Linked DNA regions of Homo sapiens. The protein of the gene in region 1 purifies or fractionates together with the protein of each later gene. This does not show direct contact. Each region holds a gene or a part of one and is shown in the gene's direction. Other genes may lie near its edges.

Region 1 (3,500 bases):
GAACCCAGGCTGGACTGCAGCACTGCTTTGGGGACAGAGGGAAGGAGATCCTGAGTGTGGGGAATCTCCCTCCCTTGACACCCACCTGGATGTGGGCGCCGGGGAAGGGCTCGGGTTTGAGACACAGGAGGGCCCCACAGGCTCCGTGGCGGTCGTGTGGTGCCGCAGGGTGTGCAAGGTGATGGCGAGTGTGAAGACAGTACAGGGGCGCGGACACGGGGAAGCGGCTGCTCTGTGGCTCCGTCCCCGCCGGCTCCTGGTTCTGAGCACGGTTGGAACGAGAGGCAGCAACACGGTCAAGGTGAAGGCGTCTCTCACATTGCCTGGAATGAGGGCGTGTCCCACGCATGGCCTCCTTTATGGCTGTGACGAAGGACCTGGACGTTGGACACGTCCCCTTCACATCCCAGAACACCTGCGAAAAATGTAAATGAGACAAAGCATTTGCTTCCTGCGAAGTGGGTTTCTCTCTGGTGTGCATTCAGTGACTTCAGCACGCGGGAGTTGGCTTTCCTGCCAAAGCGGCAGCTTGAGGCTCTGGGTTGCACAGCTTTGCTCCCAGGAAGAGCTGGGAGATCTTCTATGTCTCTTCTATGTGGGTGGCCTTGTTGCAGCCACAAGCCGGGTTCCCGCGGCAGGGTCTTCGGGGGCTAGCGGGCTCCTCCTGTCTGCAGCTTCCTGGGGTGGGCAAGGGAGCAAGTGTAGCAGAGTCGCTTGTATCAGAGGAGAATGCAGGGCTGAGAAAAAGTCACGCATTTGGGCCGAGCATGGTAGCTCATGACTGTAATCCCAGCCCTTTGGGGGGCCGAGGCGGGAGCATCACTTGAGCCCAGGTGTTCGAGACTAGCCTGGCCAATGTGATGAAACCCCATCTCCACTAAAAAAATACAAAAATTAGCCTGGTGTGGTGGCACATGCCTGTAATCCCAGCAACTCTGGAGGCTGAGGCGGGAGAATTGCTTGAACCCGGGAGGCGGAGGTTGCAGCGAGCCAAGATCACGCCATTGCACTCCAGCCTGCGCGACAAGTGAAACTGTATCTCAAAACAAAACAAAACAAACAAAAACAAAAATACCCACATGCATTTGGGGGAATTTTGGTGGGGTGTGAACTTGAGCATCTGAGGGGAAATTGAAGAAGGATCAGTGAGTGAGGTAATCGCGTGGGACGTGAATGGGAAGAGCAATCATGGTGGAAGTCACTGGCGGGAGGAGGTGCCTGCAACCCGGGAGGAAGGAGAAACGGAGCCTCCTGGCAGCCAGGACGAGGCTGGAAAGAAGGTGATCCGAGGAGCTCCTGTTGCTTGGCTCCGGGTTTAACTGGCAGAGAGAAGCCCTCTGCGTTGGGGTCTGGAGGAGGTGGCCGAGAGTGAGGAGAGGGGAAGGCTGATCGGTGCCTTCTGCCCCAGGGGTTTTGCTTGTTCCTGTGTTTGTAGCAGTTGATGGGCAGGCCTTGCTGTTCCCATTTGACTGAGAGTTTTGGAGACGTTGCCAAAGGATGAGGCTGCCAGGCTGAAACCAGACAGAAGGGGCAGGGGCCAGAGTGGAGAGGGGGGTGCGTCCTGGAGGGGGCAGCTGCGCATAGAGGGGGCAGCTGCCACTGTGGAGTTCAGGGTCCCGGGAGGTGGCTATGGGGGTGCCCTCTGGCCCGAGCGAGCTCTGGTGGGGTGGGTGGGGAGTGGGGTCCTGCGTTCTGGAGACGCGGCCATGCTGGTGCCCTGCTGCGGCCTGGTGGGGAGTGGGGTCCTGAGTTCTGGAGACACAGCCATGCTGCTGCCCTGCTGCGGCCTGTCTGAGAGCGCGCGTTCCCTGCCCCCAGGTTCCTCCTGGTTTTCTCCTGCCTCGTGCTGTCTGTGTTTTCCACCATCAAGGAGTATGAGAAGAGCTCGGAGGGGGCCCTCTACATCCTGGTGAGCCCCGAGGGAGGGCGGGGGCTGGAAGTGCCCAGGAAGGAGCTGGAGCTGCCTGGGCGTCTGTCTTCCGTTCCTGTTACTACAGGGCCTCTGACGCCCCCAGCCCCAGCTCTGGCCATGTCTTTGTGCCCTGTCAGTTCCCATCTGCCCCCAGCCCCACAGCCCGGGCTATGCCCCAGCCCCACCCTGGCTGTAACTCAGCCCTCACCTCACCCCTCCTGGTGACCTCACAGTGGCTGACAGCCCCGCCTCCATCGCCCCCACCCTGGGTGGGCCACCCTCCCTTTCCCATCCCCACTTTATCTCTGGAGCCGGAGATGTGGGGCGTCCCCAGCAGACGGCAGACGTGGGCGTCGGGGTGGGGGCTGTGACGCTTGCAGCAACCCTGTGCCAGGGCAGGGTGGGCGCCATGGCAACGGGAGTGCAGTTCCTGTGTTGCTGTTGGTAACGGGGTGGGGGGCCCTCAAGGAGACTGGTCCCCATCCAAATGCACCTCCCTCTACTGCCCGCCCTGCTCCTCTGTTCTGGGGCTTCCCAAGGTCTGGGTGGAGACTGTGGCCCCCTTTGCAGTTACCTGGGGCCTTCCCTCAGCTCAGCCCTGCTGTGCACCCCCCAACTCAAGGCAGGTCCCCCACTGGCTCAGACAGGGTCCCCCAGCTCAGACAGGGGCCCCCAACTCAGATAGAGTCCCCCAGCTTGGACAGGGCAGCTCCCCAACCAGCTCAGACAGGGTCCCCCAGCTCAGACAGGGTCCCCCAGCTCAGACAGGGTCCCCCAGCTCAGACAGGGCCTCCCAGCTCAGACAGGGTCCCCCAGCTCAGACAGGGTCCCCCAGCTCAGACAGGGCCTCCCAGCTCAGACAGGGTCCCCCAGCTCAGACAGGGTCCCCCAGCTCAGACAGGGCCTCCCAGCTCAGACAGGGTCCCCCAGCTCAGACAGGGCCTCCCAGCTCAGACAGGGTCCCCCAGCTCAGACAGGGTCCCCCAGCTCAGACAGGGCCTCCCAGCTCAGACAGGGCCTCCCAGCTCAGACAGGGTTCCCTAGCCCAGATAGAACCCCCTAGCTCAGACAGGGCAGCCCTGCCAGCTCAGACATGGTCCCCTAGCCCAGATAGAGTCCCCAGCTCAGACAGGGAGGTGGGGAGGGTGGCCCCATGGTGTTCATGCTCAGCTGTGTTCCCGGATGCAGGGTCTCCAGAGGGCCCAACCCTTCCTGCCCAGAGGCTGGAGAGGGGTGGGGGGGTCAGCTTGCAGTTTCCTTTGGGGGCCTCCTGCCCTGTGGCTTGGTCCCTGGGCCAGAACTGCTCCTGTGGGTGTCCAGGCTGGGCCCCCAGGCCCTCCCCCAGGCCTCAAGGTGGCCTCAGCTTTCCTCCCCTGCAGGAAATCGTGACTATCGTGGTGTTTGGCGTGGAGTACTTCGTGCGGATCTGGGCCGCAGGCTGCTGCTGCCGGTACCGTGGCTGGAGGGGGCGGCTCAAGTTTGCCCGGAAACCGTTCTGTGTGATTGGTGAGGCCTGGTGGGGGTGGTATTGCTAGAATCAGGGCCAGGCACCCAGGGACGGACTCAGCCCTGGGGGGAGCTGGGGCGT
Region 2 (3,500 bases), on another chromosome or scaffold:
TGAAGTGGGAGGATCACTTGAGCCCAGGAAGTTGGGGAAGCTGAGGTGGGAGGATCACTTGAGCCCAGGAGTTGAGGCTGGGATCACACCACTAGGCAGCTATTTCAGCCTGGGTGACAGAGTGAGTGTGTCAGCCTGAGCAACAGAGTGAGACCCTGTCTCAAGAAAAAAAAAAAAGGAAAGAAAAGAAATGCAGTGGTGGAGCCCAGGTATTGATATTTTAAAAAGTGTCAGGCTGGGCACGGTGGCTCATGCCTGTAATCCCAGCACTTTGGGAGGCCGAGGCGGGCGGATCACAAGGTCAGGAGATCAAGACCATCCTGGCTAATGGGGGAACTTCGTCTCTACTAAAACTACAAAAAATTAGCCAGGTGTGGTGGCAGGTGCCTGTAGTCCCAGCTACTCGGGAGGCTGAGGCAGGAGAATGGCATGAACCTGGGAGGCGGAGCTTGCAGTGAACCTAGATCACGCCACTGCACTCCAGCCTGGGCAACAGAGAGAGACTCCATCTCAAAAAAAAAAAAAAAAAAAAAGTGTCCCAGGTGATGCTGATGCCCCTTGAGTGTTGAGGACCACTGGAACAGAAGGACCCAGATGTTAGAAAATGTTATCCCTTTCCTTTGGAGTAGGATGAGGGGGATGTAATTTATCCTTTTTTCTTTTTTTTTTTTAATCAGAGTCTCGCTCTGTCGCCCAGGCTGGAGTGCAGTGGTGTCATCTTGGCTCACTGCAAGCTCCGCCTCATGGGTTCAAGCTTTTCTCCTGTCTCAGCCTCTTGAGTAGCTGGGACTACAGGCATGTGCCACCATGCCTGGCTGCTTTTGTATTTTTAGTAGAGATGGAGTTTCACCACGTTGGCCAGGCTGGTCTCAAATTCCTGACTTCAGGCCATCTACCTGCCTTGGCCTCCCAAAGTGCTGGGATTACAGGCATGAGCCACTGCACCCGACCAATTTATACTCTACTGTGTGTAGTTTCCTATTTTTTCCTTAGCAAAAGCCATTTGGAAAAGTCCCTGCCACCCCCTCTTGTATTTGTACTTTTATATTTTAAAAACAAGGTTAGCTGGGCACGGTGGCTCATGCCTATATTCCCAGCACTTTGGGAGAACGAGGCAGACGGATCACCTGAGGTTGGGAGTTCCAGACCAGCCTGACCAACATGGAGAAACCCCGTCTCTACTAAAAATACAAAATTAGCTGGCCGTGGTGGTGCATGCCTGTAATCCCAGCTACTCGGGAAGCTGAGGCAGGAGAATCGCTTTAACCCGGGAGGCAGAGGTTGTAGTGAGCTGAGATCACACCATTGCACTCCAGCCTGGAAAACAAGAGCGAAACTCCGTCTCAAAAAAAAAAAAAAAAAAATCATTGAGGCTGGGTGCACTGGCTCATACCTGTAATCCCAGTACTTTGAGGGGCCCAGATGGGAGGATCACTTGAGGTCAGGAATTTGAGGCCAACCTAGGCAATAGTGAGACCCTGTCTGTACAAAAATTGTTTTAAAAAATTAGCTGGGCATGGTGGCCCATGTCTGTAGTCCCAGCTACTTGAGAGGTTGAGGGCAGGAGGATTATTTGAGCCCAAGAGTTTGAGGCTTCAGTGAGCCACAATTGCGTGACTGACTCCACCCTGGGCGACAGAGACCCTGTCTCTAAAATAAATAAACAAAAATTTTAAAAAGTTTAAGAGTCAAAAAAGAGACTCTTGTGATCAAGAGTCTCTTGAGTATATTCAGTGCTTGCTGATATCAGCTGATAATTGAAAGAAAAACGTGGTTTCCCCTTTCATCCTGAGAGGCCAGAAGCTGGTAAGACATGAGCACAGGTCAGAATTTCCACCCGTGGGAATTCTGGGGGTGCTTTATTTTAGATGATTCGGCTAGATTGCTTCTTTATCCCCTGGCAGGCCCCCATACTAGTAGCTAGCTGTTAAGAAAAAAGAAGCCTTTTGGTGACCCACCTGAAAAGACCATAGGGTGAGGATCAGTTCTCCCATGTTCTCACTGGTGAGAATTGGGTTTTGCAGGTGAATCCTTGGTGGTATCCTCTTCCTTACCCGTCCCTTGTCTTTTTTGCCCACCATCCCCTTTCCTCCTCTGTTGCTAGACACCCCTGGTGTAAAAGGCTCTCTGTGCTCAAAGGCTGTTTGTTGCAGTGCAGCCACGCTCACTCTGATAAGGTTCTGTTTTATCTGGCTTGGGAAAAGCCATTTGGAAAAGTCTACTTTCCTTGTTCCTAGAGACCAGTGCTTGCATCCAGGCAGACCTGGCTTTGAATTGAAGCCCATTAACAAAATTTATGGCATCTTTCTTCTAAGCTGTATTTTTGTGCACTCTGTAGCTCTCACACAGAGGCACTGTTTTTCCTAACATGAGGTGTACAATGCAGCAGTTGCACAGATACGGTCCCTAAAGTGAGAAATGAATGTTCGAAAGAAGGTGCTCTCGTTTGGCATGGAGTGAATGCCTTGTTTCCACCTCAAATCCTAAGATGGAACACATTTTTCCTGGTGACTTCAGGCAGATGGCACACCTCCCACTTCCGTTGTGTGTCATGAAGGAGGAGACACTTCTATAGCCAGGGCTGTGCCTGAATAATGATGTACATGGGGGGGAGTTCACATTCACCTCCAGAATGGGTTTCCTGCTTTGCTTGAGAAATGCTTTAATTGGGTGTCATTAGTAATCCTGTCAAGGGTAAAAAAAACCTCCCTTGTTAGGAATCAAAGCAAAAAGCTCTCTCTGAGGAGTAATGAGGAATATACTCTTTCTAATATGATGCGGAAGCACTTAATATTTGTTATTGGTGTTTACAGAAATGATTACTTCTCAAACATTGCTGCTTACAGAAATGATTAATTCTCAAACTATGCCGGGAAGGTGAGTATGGTAATGATTTTACAAGGGAGGAATCTGAAGTGTAAGAGGAATCATGTCTTGCCCCAGGTCTCGAGCTAATCTGTGGCAGGTTTCGGGGCGGTGCCTGCTCCTCCGAGCCTGTCCTGGGAACTGGCCACACTGCCCTGGGTTCACAGCACCATGGGCTCTGTGCGTGCCGTTCACATACTCTTCTCCCTTGACAGCTTTGCACGTCAAGGAGAAGCTACCAGCCCACGCTTCTTGGCAAGACTCCTTTCCTCTTGGTTGTAAGGATGATACGGTCTGCTTCGGAGATGATAAAACTAGTATTGATGTTTATTTATTTGCTTTTACTTGGCAGATTCTCAGCGCTGATTTTGAGATGATGGGCTTGGGAAACGGGCGTCGCAGCATGAAGTCGCCGCCCCTCGTGCTGGCCGCCCTGGTGGCCTGCATCATCGTCTTGGGCTTCAACTACTGGATTGCGAGCTCCCGGAGCGTGGACCTCCAGGTGTTTTGTTTTCTTTATTGTTATGTTTATTTTATGTTTATGTTTTGTTTATTTTGTTATGATGGGGTCCCAGGGGTTTGTTGTTTATTGCCAGCCAGGGCGTTTTGTGCAGGGCACACGCTTGTAAGGTGAG

The links. Proteins that work in one complex are often made in the same cells at the same time.
Region 2: the proteins of KCNQ2 (region 1) and GOLM1 purify together in Homo sapiens (affinity purification with mass spectrometry; 3 studies listed by BioGRID and IntAct, with this or other methods). This does not show direct contact.

What each region holds. Positions count from the first base shown.
Region 1 is NC_000020.11:63,445,156-63,448,655, reverse strand, and holds part of KCNQ2 (potassium voltage-gated channel subfamily KQT member 2), read left to right. Parts: intron 1-85; exon of another isoform or gene 86-215; intron 216-1,818; coding exon 1,819-1,909; intron 1,910-3,291; coding exon 3,292-3,418; intron 3,419-3,500.
Region 2 is NC_000009.12:86,079,059-86,082,558, reverse strand, and holds part of GOLM1 (Golgi membrane protein 1), read left to right. Parts: intron 1-3,217; 5' UTR 3,218-3,238; coding exon 3,239-3,367; intron 3,368-3,500.